2 separate regions of the Homo sapiens genome follow, and region 1 is reported to be linked to region 2. Evidence: microRNA targets listed by miRTarBase, many of them from high-throughput screens and not tested one by one. Region 2 holds a microRNA gene; the other region holds the end of a gene's coding sequence.

The links. Region 2 holds the annotated microRNA hsa-miR-345-5p (GCUGACUCCUAGUCCAGGGCUC, at 2,313-2,334, opposite strand). A microRNA usually pairs through its seed, bases 2 to 8, with sites in the 3' UTR of a target mRNA and lowers its output. Matches are read on the target gene's strand: a 7mer-m8 pairs with bases 2 to 8, a 7mer-A1 pairs with bases 2 to 7 and ends in A, and an 8mer does both.
Region 1: the mRNA of TMCO5A is a reported target of hsa-miR-345-5p. The part of its 3' UTR that is shown has no 7-base or 8-base seed match.

What each region holds. Positions count from the first base shown.
Region 1 is chr15:37,950,699-37,954,381 of GRCh38, forward strand. TMCO5A (transmembrane and coiled-coil domains 5A) reads left to right here. Exons shown (of 12, transcript NM_152453.4): 12 at 338-724. The coding sequence ends at 536. Among named protein-coding and RNA genes, the nearest start is that of TMCO5A, 18 kb to the left of the region's middle.
Region 2 is chr14:100,306,142-100,310,209 of GRCh38, reverse strand. It overlaps MIR345 (microRNA 345), which reads right to left and starts at 2,351; the gene lies at 2,254-2,351. SLC25A29 (solute carrier family 25 member 29) reads left to right here and starts at 3,766. Exons shown (of 4, transcript NM_001039355.3): 1 at 3,766-4,011. The coding sequence starts at 3,978. RefSeq lists enhancers at 2,786-2,955, 2,986-3,055 and silencers at 3,146-3,215, 3,306-3,775, 3,836-3,935.

The DNA.
Region 1 (3,683 bases), not on the chromosome of region 2:
GAAACTTATACCTTGCTAGAGGGTTATAAGCCAATGAAACTGTTTTGAAAAACAACTTGCCAAAACAAAACCAAAAATAAACAAAACAAAAAATCAGAGAACAAAATTATTTTAGTGACAAATGCTACCCAGAAAATAAAACACGGTAATGGACAGAGAATAACCAATAGGACAGAATATGGGAGGGGGAGCTGCCATTATAAAAGGTTGTCAGGAAAGGGGGTGATAATCCATTTGAATATCAATTAGGAGCCAGATATGCATTCAGGTATGATTTATTTTTTGTTCCAAGTTTTCTAAGCTTCTGGTTAACAGTTTCATGGCATTCTCTTTTTAGGATTTTTTGCTGTCTCTTTTTCATCACCCTATTTTTCATCAGACTGCTGAGCTACATGTTTTTTCATGTAAGATTCATAAATCCAGATCTCCTCGTCAATGTACTGCCCAAGGTACTGGGCAGGAGCACCTTGTGGAAGCTCAGATGCTTCTTCTTTCCATCTCTCACACTTGAGACAGAGGACATGTTACCCCACTGATTCCCTAAGAAATATCCTTGAGCAATAGAAGGGAAGTGGGATCCGAGCCTGTAGAAGGGAGGCATGAAACTTGTGGAGGAAAGAGATTTGCTTCAGTTTTTTCCTCACCGTTTGCCTGCTTGACTACCTTCTGTCACCACGTCATCTTTCCAGGATTAACCTTGACCAGTAAAAAGCTCTGTAATAGATTTATGTGGCTCTGTGGATCGGCTGAATAGTACTTGATAGTAAACAAATTTGACCATTTGGGGAATTATATAGATGCTAAGAAAAGTTAATTGATAAATTATTCTAGTGAATCTCAAAAATCTGACACACTGGATTCCTGAAATACAGAAGATTACTTACTGCTTATATTAGAACTCATAGGTTATAAGTGACCTTAGCTTAAGATAATTTATAGCAAATACATAAGTATTTATACTTACATATTTAAATATAAAATAAAAAGTCTGTGAATAAATAAGCCAGGCAAGAAATCAGAAGACTCCACCAATTATCCCCCTTCAAGGACACCAATTTAACAACTATCTAAACAAAGAAAGCACCTTTTTAAGAATCAAAAATCAGGAGAGCACTCAGAGTCTGTAGTTTTAACTTCATATTGCTGAGACACGGAAGAGATAGGAAAAACAGTCTGGAATCACCAACACCCCCCCTTTCCCATCCTCCAGCAGCAAGGGTGTGGTGTGGAGAGCATTTCTGTGTGGTGAGGAGAGAAAGACTGCAGCATTTGTGAGACATTGAACTCAGTGCTTCCCCATTATAACAGAAAACAAAACCAGACCAAACTCACCTGACACCTGCCCACAGAGGGCTAATTTAAACCAGCCCTAGCTAGAGGAGAATTGCTGATCCCAGCTGTCGGAATTTAAGTTTCTGCAAGCCTTGCCGCTGCCAAGCTAAAGTACTCTGGAGGCTTATATAAACTTGAAATTCCTAGGTGAGTCCTAGTGCTGCACTAGGCCCAGACACAGTGGACTTGGCAGGGAGTGGGGGTGGTCACAGAGTGGCTAAGGGAGTGCTGGAATCACCCCTCCCCTAATCCCAGGCAGCACAGCTCATGGCTCCAAAAGAGACCGTTTCCGACTGCTCAAGGAGGACTCAAGTTGGGAAGACTTTGTCTTGCATCTTGAATAGCAGCTCAGCCACAGGAAGATAGGGCACCAGTCAGAGTCATGAGGCCCCCTTTCCAGGCCCTAGCTCCCAGATGACATTTCTAGACACACCCTGGGCCAGAAGGGAGCCTGCTACTTTGAAGAGGACTCAGTCCTGGAAGGACACATCACCTGCTAACTGAAAAGCCTCTGGGCCCTAAATAACCAGCAGCGATACTTAAGTACTATGTGGAGGGCTTTAGGTGAGACCCTGAGAATTTCTGGCTTCAGGTGAGACTCAGCATAGTCCCAGCTATTGTGGCTATGGGTCAAGATTCCTTCTACTTGAGAAAAACAGAGGAAAAAGCAAAGTGGACTTTGTCTTCCAGCTTGGTCACAGTGAGGTAGAGCACAGAGTGAGCCCTTGGGTTCCCAATTTCAGGACTTGGCTCTTGGAATACATTTCTGGAACTGCCCTAGGCAAGAGGGGATCCCACTGCCCTGAAGGGCAAGTCCCAGGCCAGGCAGCATTCACTACAAGCTAACTGAAGAGCCTTGGGGCCTTCTTTAAGGAAACATTAGTGGTAGTCCGGCAGTACTCCCCATAGGCCTATGGTGGCAGTGGCCATGGTGGGAGGCATCTCTGCTTTTGGAAAGGGGAGGGAAGAATGGGAAGAACTGAGTCTTTTGGTTTGAATGCTACCTTATCTGCAGTACAGTACAATATCAGATGGACTTCTAAAGCTCTTGACTCTAGACCCTGGCCCCTGAAAGCACCTCTGGACATGCACAGGGCCAGGGGTAACTCACCACCCTGAAGGGAAGGACACAAGCCTGGTTGCTTTGCCACCTGCTGATTGTAGAGCCCCCAGGGCCTTGAGTGAACATAGACCATAGCCAGGTAGTGACTACAGCAGGACTCGGGTAAGACCCAGTGCTGTGCTGGCTTCAGGTCTAACGGTTCAGCACAGTCCTAGTGGTTTTGGCCACAGAGGTACTTGTGTTACACCACCCAGAGCTCCAGGTGACTCAGAAAAGAGAGAGATGCCATTCATTTGGGGGGAAGTAAGGAAAGAGAATACGAACCTTTGCCTGATAATCCAAAGAATTCTTCCAGATTTTGCTTAAAACCATCAAGGTGGTACCTCTACAAGTTGGCAAGAACCACAGTATTACTGGGCTTAGGGTGGCCCCTAAAGCAGATATGGCTTAGATCACAACATCAAAGTCCTTTTGAATATCTGGAAGGCCTTCCCAAGTAGAATGGGTACAAACGAGCCCAGATTGAGAAGACTACAATAAATGCCTAACTCTTCAATGCCCCAGCACCAAACATCTACAGGCATCAAAAACATCCAGGAAAACATGACCTCACCAAACTAAAGTAAGGCACCAGGGACCAATCCTGGAGAAACAGAGATATGTGACCTTTCAGGAAGAAATTTAAAATACCTGTTTTGAAGAAACTCAAATTCAAGATAACACAGAGAAGAAACTCAGAATTCTATCAGAAAAATTTAACAAAGAGATTAAAATAATTTAAAAGAATCAAGCAGAAACTCTGGAGTTAAAATGCATTTAGCATAATGAAGAATACACCAGAGTCTTTTAATAGCAGAATTGATCAAGCAGAAGAAAGAATTAGTGAGCTTAAAGACAGGCTAATTGAAAATACACAGTCAGAGGACATAAAAGGAAAAAAATAAAATAAAAAACAAAGCACACCTACAGGATCTAGAAAGTAACCTCAAAAGAAAAAATCTAAGAGTTACTGGCCTTAAAGGGGAGATAAACAGATAGGCATAGAAAGTTTATTCAAAGGAATAACAACAAAGAACTTCCCAAACTTAGAGAAAAATATCAATATCCAAATATAGAACACCTACAGATTTAACCCGAAGAAGACTATGTCAAGGCATTTAATAATCAAATTCCCAAAGGTCAAGGATAGAGAAAGGATCACAAATGCAGCAAGAGAAAAGAAAAAAATAATGTACAATGGAGCTGTAATATATCTGGCAGCAGACATTTCAATGAAAATCTTACAGAC
Region 2 (4,068 bases):
CCAAGGCCCTGAGAGGGGCACAAGCTTAGAGGGTGGGCTCCAATAAGAGGGCCAGAGGGCATGAAAGGTGGGAGGTGAGGTTGTAGTCTGGTTACCCTGGGCCTCACACCATGGCACTGAGCTCGAGTATTCCAATATGAGACAGGAGGCGACTGACAGCGCGCCGGCCCCACCAATCTTTGGCCAGGAGTTTGCAACCTGCTCAGGTGGCTCCCATCCCGAGTCTACACCTGTGCTTGCTGCCAGAGCCCTTCTGTGCACTCTCCCCTGCACAGCCTAACTCCTGGGAAGGTCTACACAGCTGGTGCCTCATCCTCTCCCCCTCAACTTGCCCTCTGGCAGCCTGAGTTGCAGCCACCCCCCCCAAGTCCTGGCCCAAACAGCTCCTGCAGGGGGTCATTCAGCTCCAAGATTCCAGGGTGGGGACAGAGACTTGCGTTTCCTTTTTACTTTCTGGCGTTTCTGATTTCTCCACACTGAACCTGTCTTGTGTGAGAATAAAAGCTGTACACAGGGAAAACTCCAACACACCCTTTCCAGTGAGCTGGCTTGACCCTCGGTGCCCCGTGACAGTCCCTCCGGCCTTGCTGTCCTGTGCTGGCCTTGGGTCTGCCCTGCCCCTTAAAAGGCTGGGGTCCTCAGGGCTGCACAGAGCCCTGCCTCCTCTGGGATGGGAGGTCCAGGGCTCTGTGGAACATGGGAGTTTGAGAAAGCACATTCTGTGCTGTAACCTTATCCTCAGGAAATGAAATAAAACAATAGACACTGAACCCAAGTGTCCAAGATGTAGGCATACGGATTCATTTACTTGGCACCAACTTTTTCACTCCTCCTTTCTGGTCTCTCCTCAGCCCTGACATGGAGGTCAGGGATTTGTGTCTGTCTTGTCCCCAACACAGGGCACAGGGCAGTGCGCCGACTGAGTGCATGATTCCCAGGCAGCAGGGAAACAGGGTGCTCAGGAAGATGTGGTTTTGCAAAGTTTAGTAACCCAGCAGCACACCCGTGTGGACGCATCCCTTTCCAGTGCCTGTCCTCACCCCCTCCCCAATGTCCCCCACCCAGTGTCAACTGTGCAGGCCCTGGGCACACCAAGATGAAGGGGACAGACCTGGGACCTGCCCTCAGGGTACTTCCAGCTGAAGGCAGCCCCCTGTCACCCACAAGGGAGCTGAGGCTCCCTTGGCGGGTCAGGTCAGGCAAATCTGTCCCAGAGCCCAGTCCTCCACTGTCCCCCACATGTTGACCTTAGTCCCCAAATCCAACAGCCCTCCCCCGACCACACACACACACCCAGAACCCTGCCCTCTCCTTGCAAAGTGCACAGCTAAGGGCCCGCACTCCTCATCTCCCAGGCCTGGCACGATCCCACTGCTGCCCTCACACGGCCTGCCTCAGCTCTCTCAACAAAGGACCCTCCCTGCAAGGAGGTTTTTCTTTTTGAAATAGGGTCTTGCTCTGTCATCCAGGCTGGTGCACAATGGTTCGATCATAGCTCACTGCAGCCTTGACCTCCTGGGCTCAAGCGACCCTCCTGCCTCGGCCTCCTGAGTAGCTAGGACTACAGGCCTGCAGGCATGCGCCACCACATCCTGCCGATTTTTTTTTTTTTTAGAGATGGGGCCTCACTATGTTGCCCAGGCTGGCCTCAAACTCCTGGCTTCAAGCGATCCTCCTGCCTCAGCCTCCCAAAGTGCCTGGATTACAGGCATGAGCCACTGAACCCAGCCTCAAGGAGGTTTCTGAAGCTCAACTATGGAATACCTACTGTTTACCAGGCTACTAGGCCCCTTCCCAAGGACCCCAGGGACTGACAGCTCAGTGCAACCTGCCCCAAGCATAATTTTCAAGGCATGTGCATTCTCTCAATAACAAAGCAAAACAGGTCATGCTTGTCTCCTTATCCGTTTCCATCATTTTCTCACTACTGCCACATGCTGTCAAGGTACTGGATTTCCCTCCCAAACCTCCTCAACCAGGAATGGATGTGCAGGGATTTGTGCTTTACCTCATGAGCCCTCCAGCATCCCAAGGACATCCTGTTCCTAAGGTAAGTGACTACATGTAGGTAGTCCAGTGTAATCACTGTGTCTGCAGGAGGCCTCCAGCCACCTGAGTAGCCCCACAGCCAGCTCCTGCCCTTTTGGGTCTGGGCTTCTCTTGGGGCCCCCATACCACTGCTTTTCTGGCCCATGGGCCACTCTCCCCCATCCGCACACCTGCCTCCCTGAGGCAACCAAGTGGGTCAGAGAGGCTGTCGATATTCAAACCCAGGCCTCCAGACCCCTCGTTCAGGGCCCACCAGCCATCACGAGCCCTGGACTAGGAGTCAGCAGACCTAGGGTTTGGGTCTCTGCTTAACATTCTACTTAGACTCTAAAAGGAAACTAACATGAGCACTGGGGACCCCTGCCCCTAGCACCAGGCTGCACTACTGACAACACCTACCTGTGTGTCCTAGTACCAAATACACAGAACCTTTCGACCTGCACCTCCAGGAGGTAGGTACCCACTGGAATTTGGATAAAAGAACCATGTGACCCTAAACCTGGAAACGTGGCACACGGTGTGGCCTTGCCTGCCTGCAGGCCCTAAAGAAGGAAGCTGGGCCCGGCCTAAGGCTGATCTGACTCCTACAGCGAAGAGAAAGCGCCTGGCCCGTCCCTGCTCCCAGGCTCCAACCTGACAGTCTGGACCTCCAGAGGCGCTGGGGAAGGGCTGGTGGGAAGTCACCGAATGGGACGCTCCACAGGGACCAGGGCAGTCCCTTGCCACTGCGAATGTCAGGGACTCCTGGGGGGCCGAGTCAGACTCGGCTCTCATTCATCCCCGCAGCCCATGGATACCCTGGTGACCCAGAGCCAAGCACCCTCCGACTTCAGCGCCTGAGCGCGGCCCCTACCGAGCCCCTCCGGTCTCGCCCCGTCCGGCCGCCGCTGACGGAGGCGCTGCGATCTGGCCCGACTCCACTCTGCAGCCCAGTCCAGGAACCTCCCTCTCTCCACAACCTTCCGCGGCTCCCGCGACCCGCAGTCCTCGGGAAGGAGCTGTGGCCCGAAGGCCTGCTGCGCCCTTTGCCCATGGCCCCTTTCCCTTTTAAGGTTCCCTGCTCTCCGCCCAAATCCCAGCCTCAGGCTCCGCAGGAAGCGCCCGTGCGCGTCCGACCCCCAGAACCCGGCGGGTTCGGCCAGGAGTCCGGAAGCCCCGGAGGCCACCGCCGCCGCGGGCGCGCAGGCGGGACGGGCAGAGGCTCCCCACGGGCGATTCCCGCTCGCGGAGTTTCGCAACTAGCGGCGTCCCAGTCTGCGGGCCTCGGAACGTCCCGGCGCTCCACGGCCGTTTTCGCGGCAGGGTCCGCACGGCACAGACTAGGGCGCTGAGGTTCTGCGGCGGCGCCGGACTCCGAACCCAGGGTCCGGTTCCCGACCCGGTCCAGACCAGAGCCACCCCGCGTACTCCGGGTGGGGGAGTCCTCGGCTCAACCCCGCCACCCCGCGCGTCCCCTCCCGCCGGACCTGCGCACCCAGCGCGCTCTTTGTCTGAGGCGTCCCCGCGCCCCGCCCGCGCGCCCACCACGTCCCCCGCGCCCCGCCTCCCGCGCACGCCCGGCCAATGAGGCGCGGCGGCGAAGCGCAGTGCCCGGGGTGTTGTCCGCGCCGTGCCCGCCCATTGGCCTCACTCGGCGCCCCCACCCGGGCCCTGCCGGCAGGCACGAGGGGCGGGGCGCGCGGCCCGAGGTGAGGGACCGCGGGCCGGAGGGGATCCAGCGAGTCAGCTGCCGCCGAGGGACCAGCGCGGGTCTAGCTGCTGCCGCCATCCCCACCATCCCTGACCGCGCCTGCCCGGGCTCCGCGCCAGGAGGAGCGGCCAGGCCCAGCCCCGGCACCGCGCGCTCGGGGACCCCGACGGCGCCCAGCCCGGCGAGGGGCCTCAGGGGGAGGACGAGGAGGAAAGGCGGCCTCGCCGGGGACCCGGCCATGGCGCTGGACTTCTTGGCTGGATGCGCGGGGGGTAAGGAGGCGGCGGGCCGGGCCGGGCCGGGGCGAGGCGTCCGGGGAGGGAGGTCGG